Linked DNA regions of Homo sapiens. The protein of the gene in region 1 purifies or fractionates together with the protein of each later gene. This does not show direct contact. Each region holds a gene or a part of one and is shown in the gene's direction. Other genes may lie near its edges. The genes, in order: MEGF10 and TFAP2B.

Region 1 (3,816 bases):
TTATTCCCTTGTTTAAAAATCTTTGGCAGCTCTCTGGATGGTGAATGTCAGTGTTACCTGGGTGCATGTTGAAAATATAGATTCCAGGGCTTCACCCCAGAAGTAAGGGCCAGTAATCTGCATTTTGAGATCTCCAGGTGAACCTGGTAAAGCTGACGTCAGATCACATTTGGAGAAACACTGGCTTACAGCATAAAGTCTCACCTCCTTACCGCTATACACAAGACCACCTTTGCAGCACTTCTCAGGGTTATTTTCTGCTTCTCTGGTCCCCAGCTCTCCAGCTCCCACTGATCTTGATCTTGTTACTATCTCAAGAATACGCTGTGCACTTTCACTCTTCCATGACCCAGCTGTATATGCTGTTCCTTCCTCTGAAAATGTCTTTGACCCTCTTTCCTGTCTAACCAACCACTTACCACCCATTCATCTTTTAAGACACTATTCAAATCCCTTTGAAGACTTTCCCTCTGAAGTTTTTCCCAATTATCTCATAAACTTAGCGATATCTCATGCGAGTTCCCATTCTTGTGGATAGATTTAATATAGCATAATCACATTGTATCAGCCATATTTATTATCTGAATGTTTATCCCTAACAGATTGGTGAGTTCATCATTCCTTATTGTAAGCTCTTATACAAGTGGCTGGCCCATAGTAGTTATGGAATAAATGCCTAGAGAATGTTGGAGAAAAGTAAATGGATGAATGATAGTCAACATTTTCTTAGCAGACAAAGTGGTTGGGACAGTATTGTATACATATGGAGGGTGTGGAAAAGCCAGTTGGGAATTTCCAGTTTGGCTAGACATAGCCTAGGAAGTTAATAACTTCAAGTGGGGCTGGGCATGGTGCCTCACGCCTGTAATCCCAGCACTTTGTGAGGCTGAGGTGGGAAGATCACTTGAGGCCAGGGATCCTAGACCAGCCTGGCCAAAATGGCGAAATCCTGTCTCTACTAAAAATACCAGAATTAGCCGTGAGTGGTAGCACACACCTGTAATCCCAACTACTTGGGAGGCTGAGGCACAAGAATCACTTGAACTTGGGAGGCAGAGGTTGCAGTGAGCTGAGATCGCGACACTGCACTCCAGCCTGGGTGACAGAGTGAGACTCTGTCTCAAATAATAATAATAATAATAATAATAATAATAATAATAAATAACTTGGAGTAGAAAAAGGACAAGACAGAATATCCTAAGAGGACTTATGAAACACCAAATGCCACTGAATTAATGTTACATGTTGAACATTATTGCAGGCAGTATAATGAAGAGCTGAGCTTATCCTTTAGGATGGTTTTGGTTTGGTTTTTGGAATGACGTGTCAGAGCACTGGAAAGGAAGTGCCAATGCCAATAAAAACCAACTTTGCTCTGTGCTTTTCCATTTATAAAACACTTCTGCTTCTGTTTTTGTATTTGATCAGAAACATGGTGACTGGTTCAATACTGTCTTTCCTTCTTTCCTGAAAGGACACATTCCTGAAAATAGGTCTGAAGATTGTATAAAAGCCTACATATTATAGGGGATTCTGGCCATAGAAAGCCAAATATATTATGAAATCTCTAATTATATCTTGCTATTTAGACACAGCATTCAGTGTATACTCCATTTTCTAATTTTTCTTTCTTTAAACTTTACACAATTTTGGTTATTTTCTCCTCATTTCAATAACAGTTGACCAGCTCAAGTTCAATAAATGTCTGATTCAGATGAAAAGATTTGCCATTTTTGGCATGTCTAATAACTTCTACCTTTGTCTTACTTAGTTTATGAGACAAACACTTCTCATAATTACTATTAGGCTTTTAATTTTCCCATTTCCCATTCACTTTTTTGTAATAATGAAAATATGCAGTAACATTTGAATAAGTGAATGAATAATTCTCTGGGTAATGACAAGGATGGTGATTCTGCAAAAATTGAACTATTGGCTTAGGGCAGCTGCACCATAAAATAAACAACATAAAAAGTTCATTCATTAGCTGGCATCTGAGTGTCATCATGACACAGGGCAGGGAGGTAGTAGCATCAATAGATGTAGTACAAATATCCACATTGATGGACTTCAAACGAAGCAATATTGAGGACTGCCTTTACTCTCAGTTTCTCAAGGGTGTGTACCCAGTATCTGGTTTTAATAATTAGTTTAGTTTTAAGAATTAATACAAGATTCACTGGGTTCTGTTGATTTGTCTTCTTTTAAAATTATGTTTCTGAAATGAACTTTTTCTAGCTTAGCATAAGCCTGTATCATTTTCTGCCAACCTTTGGAAGTCTTTTAACTGCTCTCCTAATCTCTTTATTCAGTCATTCATTCATTCTTCATATCTGAATGTCCTGAAATTTTTAATTTACCTTTTGTCTCTCTTTACCATTTTGCATTATTGTTCACCATGATCATTCTAACTCTTTTTAAATATAGTTATTGCAGAGGACTAATTTAGAGCATTTAGTAAAAGGATTTCTCATACTATGAGGGAAAAAGAAGGTACAAACCAATGTTATTTTACTTTATAGAACTTTATTTGTGGAATGGCAAGTCACTGTGTGGATGTTATTTGATAATGCAAACTCTGTGGCATTAGCCAATCTGGAAAGTGTGAATGTGATAATACATCCTGTTATTATGGTTGTTCATTTCTAGTGATTTCCTCTCTTATTTCATTTCTAGTGATTTATACTCCTAGATAAAGAAACTATGTAAAGCATTTAAGCACCTCAATTTCCTACTTAGAGGGCAATAAATTGTACCCCTTCCCACTTCTAAGACAAAGAAAACAGTATTTCAGTATGGAAAACCTCATCTTGATAGGTACATGTGCAGGATATTAGCATCTGTTAAAAACATCTTATCTTTGGGAACATCCTAGAGGATGACTAAGTGCCTTGTCATTAATGTCTCATCTGACCCAGATGAGCTGTACAGATTTGGCTGTTTCTCAACATAGCCACAGGTGGTGGTTCCCAAGATGGATCTTTTGAATACCTTCTGCTGAAGAATTTTGGCTTTCTTAAAAAATAATTTTTGATGGCAAATTGAAAACTAAAACACACAAATTTAACTTGTTCCTCACAGAGTGAAATAGAACTATGAAATTTTTGCTTGGTGGCACAGAAGACTAATCCTACAATCAAAACAAAAAAATTTAAATATCCACCCCTATTGACATCTTGAGAAAAGTACTTGAGTTTGGATGAAGAATTGATAAAAAATATGTGACTTGGTTCTTTAAAAAAGTAATAGGTTGGAGAGTTACTTTTTGTTCCACCAGTTTTTTTTGTTTTGTTTTGTTTTGTTTTTTGAAGTGGAGTTTCATTCTTGTTGCCCAGGCTGGAGTGCAATGGCGCAATCTCAACTCACTGCAACCTCCGCCTCTGGGGTTCAAGTGATCCTCCTGCCTCAGCATCCCGAGTAGCTGGGATTACAGGCATGTGTCAACATATCTGACTAATTTTTGTATTTTTAGTAGAGACGAGGTTTTGCCATATTGGCCAGGCTGGTCTCGAACTCCTGACCTCAAGTGATCTGCCTGCCTCAGCCTCTCAAAGTACTGGAATTACAGGCATGAGCCACTGCACCTGGCTGTTTATCAGATATTTATTAGCTGTGTAGGGCATAGGGGAAAATACCATGTGTAATTACCAAGAAGCTCTTGCCTTCGAGGAAAAAACAGACTAAAAAAGTACACATTGCATGCCCATATAAAATATCTCATGTAACCCATAAATATATACATCTACTATGTACCCTCAACAATTAAAAAAAAAACAACAACTGAGCAGGTAAGCCTGGGTATAGTAAGAGCCAAGT
Region 2 (4,605 bases), on another chromosome or scaffold:
AGGAGGAAGAGGAGAAAAGGAAAGACGAAACATAAAAAATTCAACCGGAAATAAGGGGTTTATTTCTGAAGTTCCTTCTGAAGCACCTTCTTTGTGTTCTTTTCCTTTGACTTATCTTTAAAAATTAAATTAAAAATCTGCAGAATTGTTTATTCTGCAGTTCATGAAGCTTCTCCTTGGTTTTGATTGAATCGACGTCCAACAAGGTTGTCCGGAGCCCTGTACTCAAACAGCGTCCATCCCTGTTCGCGCAGAGCTGCACACAGCAGTCCTGGATTTAAAGACAATCACCCTTTGCAGATTCACTCTCACCAGGCTTAATAACTTCCACCCCAAATTGCCCCATCCCTCCTCGGTCCCTCCTGGCATTTCTTTTCTGTCCCAGGCGCAGAGATCCTCTTCTGGGCGTCTGTTCCGGCTATGAGAAGCTCTCCGCACCCTGAAAGGGAGTAGAAAAACAGAGGGGATGGGAAAGGGGGAACAGGGGAACAGATGAGTATTCATTTCATGATAAAATTCAGAATCCCTGCGCCTTAAATGGTGCCCATTTTCTAAGTCTGGTTAATATTGTTCTTGTTGCTGATGATGTTTTCCTTTTTAAAAACTATATGAATCATCTTATTAAGAAAAATTATACAAAAAAAAGAAGAAACTCCACATGCACTAAAATATTTTTCACTATCTCTTTGAAGACATTCTGCTTAAACCTTTTCAAAGATTCGGGTGGCCCTTTCTTGACTCTCCATGATTAAAACCACTTACAAGTCATACACAACAGATGCAAATATAAAATGTCCTTGGCCTCTGCAAAAAAGGCTCAAAATTAACCTTGTCTGAACGTGTGCGTACGTTGCTTCCAACATCTGAAAAAAACTTGATAAAATGGAGACTCCAGCCAAGAGGAATGGTGCATGGAATCCGTTGAAAATGCATACAAACAACACCTAAAATAACAAGCAGCACAAACTGAGGTGTATTTAAGTTTCCAAAGGTTTTAGGTAAAATGACCAGAAAATATTAGAAATGGTCATCAACGGTGGCTAGCTTTTTTGTTCTATGGTGACAGAGATAAAGTTAAAAAAAAAAAAGTTGTGTAGCCATCAACACAGAGATAGTCCTTAAAATCCCCCATATCCAGCCTTTCAAAATACTCTCTTCCGGAACATACATGAATAGGAGGGAGCTTTTGTGTTTAAAAATCTTGGTAAGTGTCCCCCTTTAAAATCTACATAGAAAATAGGGGACTGATGGCCCCTGGTTTCTCATTATGAATTGCAAAGACTTCAGTTAGTGGCTACAATGATGTGTCATTTTCGATATAGAAGTTATAAAATGTATATATTATATTAATCACCCTGAACAACTCTTTGTTAAATGCACATTTGGAGTCTGCAGACTGTGTGACCCAGAGGTGCTTATATAACTATATGTGGGTGTCTGGGTGTAAATACGGGTTTATGATTTTTATAGTATATATGTCTGTGGGTTGCATCTAACTCCTGTGTGTGCAATAATGTTTTTTCTCTTTGCTGAGGCTTACTTGTCCAGCCTATTGTTTGAGACAACAGATATAAGTTGCGATGGGAGAGGAGCGTCGGATTTGGTGTGTATCCCCCATTTCCAATTATAGATGGATCATTACAGACAGCGGAGTCCTGAGAAGCCAGACATCTGCTCCTCACATGAATGCACTCACCTCCTAGAGACCAGGCTGCCATCATGCTCTGGAAGCTTGTGGAGAATGTCAAGTACGAAGATATCTATGAGGTGAGTCGACACCCCCAGATGCACCTTAGAGCTTTGCAGATAGAGAATTTGAGCTTCTTGATACCCCAAATGATATATATTTTTAAGCTATTTACTCGTAGATTTCCGGTCGGTTTTCTCAGCTTTTTTTAACTTTTAGAAAAGCTGGCTAGGGAAGACTTCGCTGCTCTGAAAAGGGACTTTAAGGCTGAAATCTGACAACTTTAATTTAGGAATGTTTTTATTTATTTTATTTTTCTTTCCCTTTTCCTCGCCTCCCCCCACCCCACCCCACCCTTTTAAGCTCTGATGGGGAATGTGGTGCTACTGAATGTGGGCACGCTCTCAGAGAAAATCGAGATTCTGATAAAGTCAGGGGCTTTTCTCGTTTTAAGTGTGGAAGAGAATTGGGTTTTCAAGCCTCATTTGTAACAGACTCGGGCTTTTAATTTTTATTTTCAATAAAATTTCTGAAATTGATAACAAATGGTTCCAAGTAGAGGACAGAGAATTAGCGGGAAAGAAGTAGATGGCTGGAGATATGGATGGATAGAGCAAAATAGAAGTCGTAGCAGTTTATTAGTTTCTGTTTTCTTGTGTTTTGCTTCCTTGAGGGTCACTGCGTCCGAACAGAAATCGCAGCCGCCTCCTGTGTGGGCATCTTTCACGGAAATTTCTGCCCACGTTCAATGCGTACGGGTCTCTAGCACTGAGGCTAGCTCAACTCTTCGGGGCAGGAGAAGTTGCGCCCAGCCAGGAGGACGCCAGCCGCCTCCGGGGCCCGGACCGCGCTCGCCAAAGCCCTTTTCCGGCTCGGGCGAGGGCTGACGCGGCCAGACGGCTCCGCTACTCGCGGGCGAGGCGGACTAGGCGGACGAGGCGGCCGAGGCGGGCGAGGTGGGAGAGGCGGGCGAGGTGGGAGAGGCGGCCGAGGCGGGCGAGGCGCGGGGCGCGCGGCGGGCCAGGCTGGGGACCGGGAAGCCCGCGGAGCCTCGCTTTTAAGCGGAATGGTCTGGGACAGCCCCAGGTGGTTGCCAGGGGAAGGGAGGAAGGGAAGGTTCTGCTGAGACGTCGAGGTTGGAAATAAAAACTTCGGAAAGGCGAAGCGGATTTAGAAAAGGAGGGAAGTCGAGGCGGGCGAAGCGGGCCATGGAGATTGCTAAGAGGAAAAGTTGGAGAGAAAAGGAAGGAAGAGAAGCAGACTCCCGGGTGGCGGGCGCGGGCCGCTAGGTCAGACGAAAGGTGGAGGGATGCAGAGGCTCCCCAAAGAGCCGAGAAAGACACGCGACCCCTCCGGATCGGGACAGCTCCTGAAAGCCCGGCGCAGAGCCGCCTCGAAGATCCTAAGAGTGGGCGACTCACAGGCGCGGCCGGCAAGCTCCTGGGGGACTCGGGCTCGGACGAGCGCCCACAGGCAGCGCCTGGCGCCCACACCTCCTGCCCCCCCCCGAATCCTAATGTTGGGGTGTGTGTATGTGTGGAGGTATGTAGGAGAGAGGAGGAGGAGATAAGAGAGGAGAGGGAGAAAAGCAGGAGAGAGCGCGAGAGAGCAGAGAGGAGAGAGATTGGTCTTGTTGCTGAATGATGCTTGGGGTTTTCCTTTTCTCTTTGTGGTTGTGTATCGACTGTAACGAAGAGCCGCGCCTACGCGCCTGGTGGGGATTGTTTCGGTTCGGCCTCCTTTTCTTTCCTTAACAGGCGGGATAATGGTAAAGTCCAAGGCGCTAGAACTGTCCTAAAGAATATTAGCGCCCAAAGTGGGCATGACATTAGCAAGCACGGGGCCATGGTGAAAACAGCTCAAGCTATATGCATGCAGAGGCATTTCAGTGGGTTCTAAAAAGTAACCAGGGTAACATTCGTTCTTTACAGAAAGTAAAGTAGCTAAATGGAAAAGGAAGGAGGGAGAGAAGAAAGGAGGGAGGGAGAGAGGAAGAGGGAGGGGTGGAGTGGAAGGGAGGGAAGAGAGAAGAGAAAAGAGGGGAGGGAGAGAGAGAAAGAGAAATAAACAGGGAGAGAGAGGGAATATTACAGGTGGTCCTATCTGCCTAAATTTTCTGCTCAAAAAACAGAATCCGCAGCTCGGTGGAAGGAGCCTATTTAAGTCTGGACTAAGGTTGAACTTTAACAGAAATGGCAGTCAGGCCAGTTGAACGGGTTCCTGAAACATCCAAAAAGGTTTTCTGTTGCCCCTGGCTTTGCCTGGAAAGGATAAGTTTAGTGTATTTGAAGATTGATGGCGTATGTTTTAAATTGAGGTAAAAATCGCAAACTATGTGAGCACTAAACAGGAAAAGGCTGCACAGGAATGAAAAGCCTCCATCTCGCTTCTGTCCTTTAACAAATGAGCATAATCTTCCACATTTAGCAAAAGTCTGCAAAAGTCACTGTAAATAACCAGGCCCACCAATTTGCCTTTCTCTCGCCTCCAAATGATGAAGCAACCCTTTTTATTTTGTTTTTGTAATCCTCACACAAAGCACCCAAGGCGACCAAGTCCTCCGGATTAGGGAAGTCTCTCTCCAGGTAGGAGGACACCTCCATTCTATACAACCTCCCAGCACTGTTCTCCCTCACTGCCTTATCCAAAGGAGCAGGGGCTGCTTTACTCGTGTCCCCGGCACAGTTAATTGAAGTTCTGCCTCTTTCCTGCTAAACTTTTTCCCCAGTCTGCCTTTGCCAGCCCCCTCGTCTGATTACATCTAGTAATTCTCCACTGAATGAACGTCATTTACAATAGTAGGGGAGCTCTGCGCTCGCTGCTGCTTCACGCTCCATTTGTCCTCTATTCTCCCTTTAAAGTACTCGTGTAATATTAATAGTCATGAATATCAATTATTATGAGGCGGTGTAGGCAAG

What was found.
Region 2: the proteins of MEGF10 (region 1) and TFAP2B purify together in Homo sapiens (affinity purification with mass spectrometry, with the first as the bait; one study listed by BioGRID). This does not show direct contact.

What each region holds. Positions count from the first base shown.
Region 1 is NC_000005.10:127,293,677-127,297,492, forward strand, and holds part of MEGF10 (multiple epidermal growth factor-like domains protein 10 isoform a precursor), read left to right. Parts: intron 1-3,816. UniProt on the Homo sapiens protein: Membrane receptor involved in phagocytosis by macrophages and astrocytes of apoptotic cells. Receptor for C1q, an eat-me signal, that binds phosphatidylserine expressed on the surface of apoptotic cells. Cooperates with ABCA1 within the process of engulfment.
Region 2 is NC_000006.12:50,817,206-50,821,810, forward strand, and holds the start of TFAP2B (transcription factor AP-2-beta), read left to right. Parts: upstream 1-1,686; coding exon 1,687-1,767; exon of another isoform or gene 1,768-1,821; intron 1,822-4,226; coding exon of another isoform or gene 4,227-4,272; intron 4,273-4,605.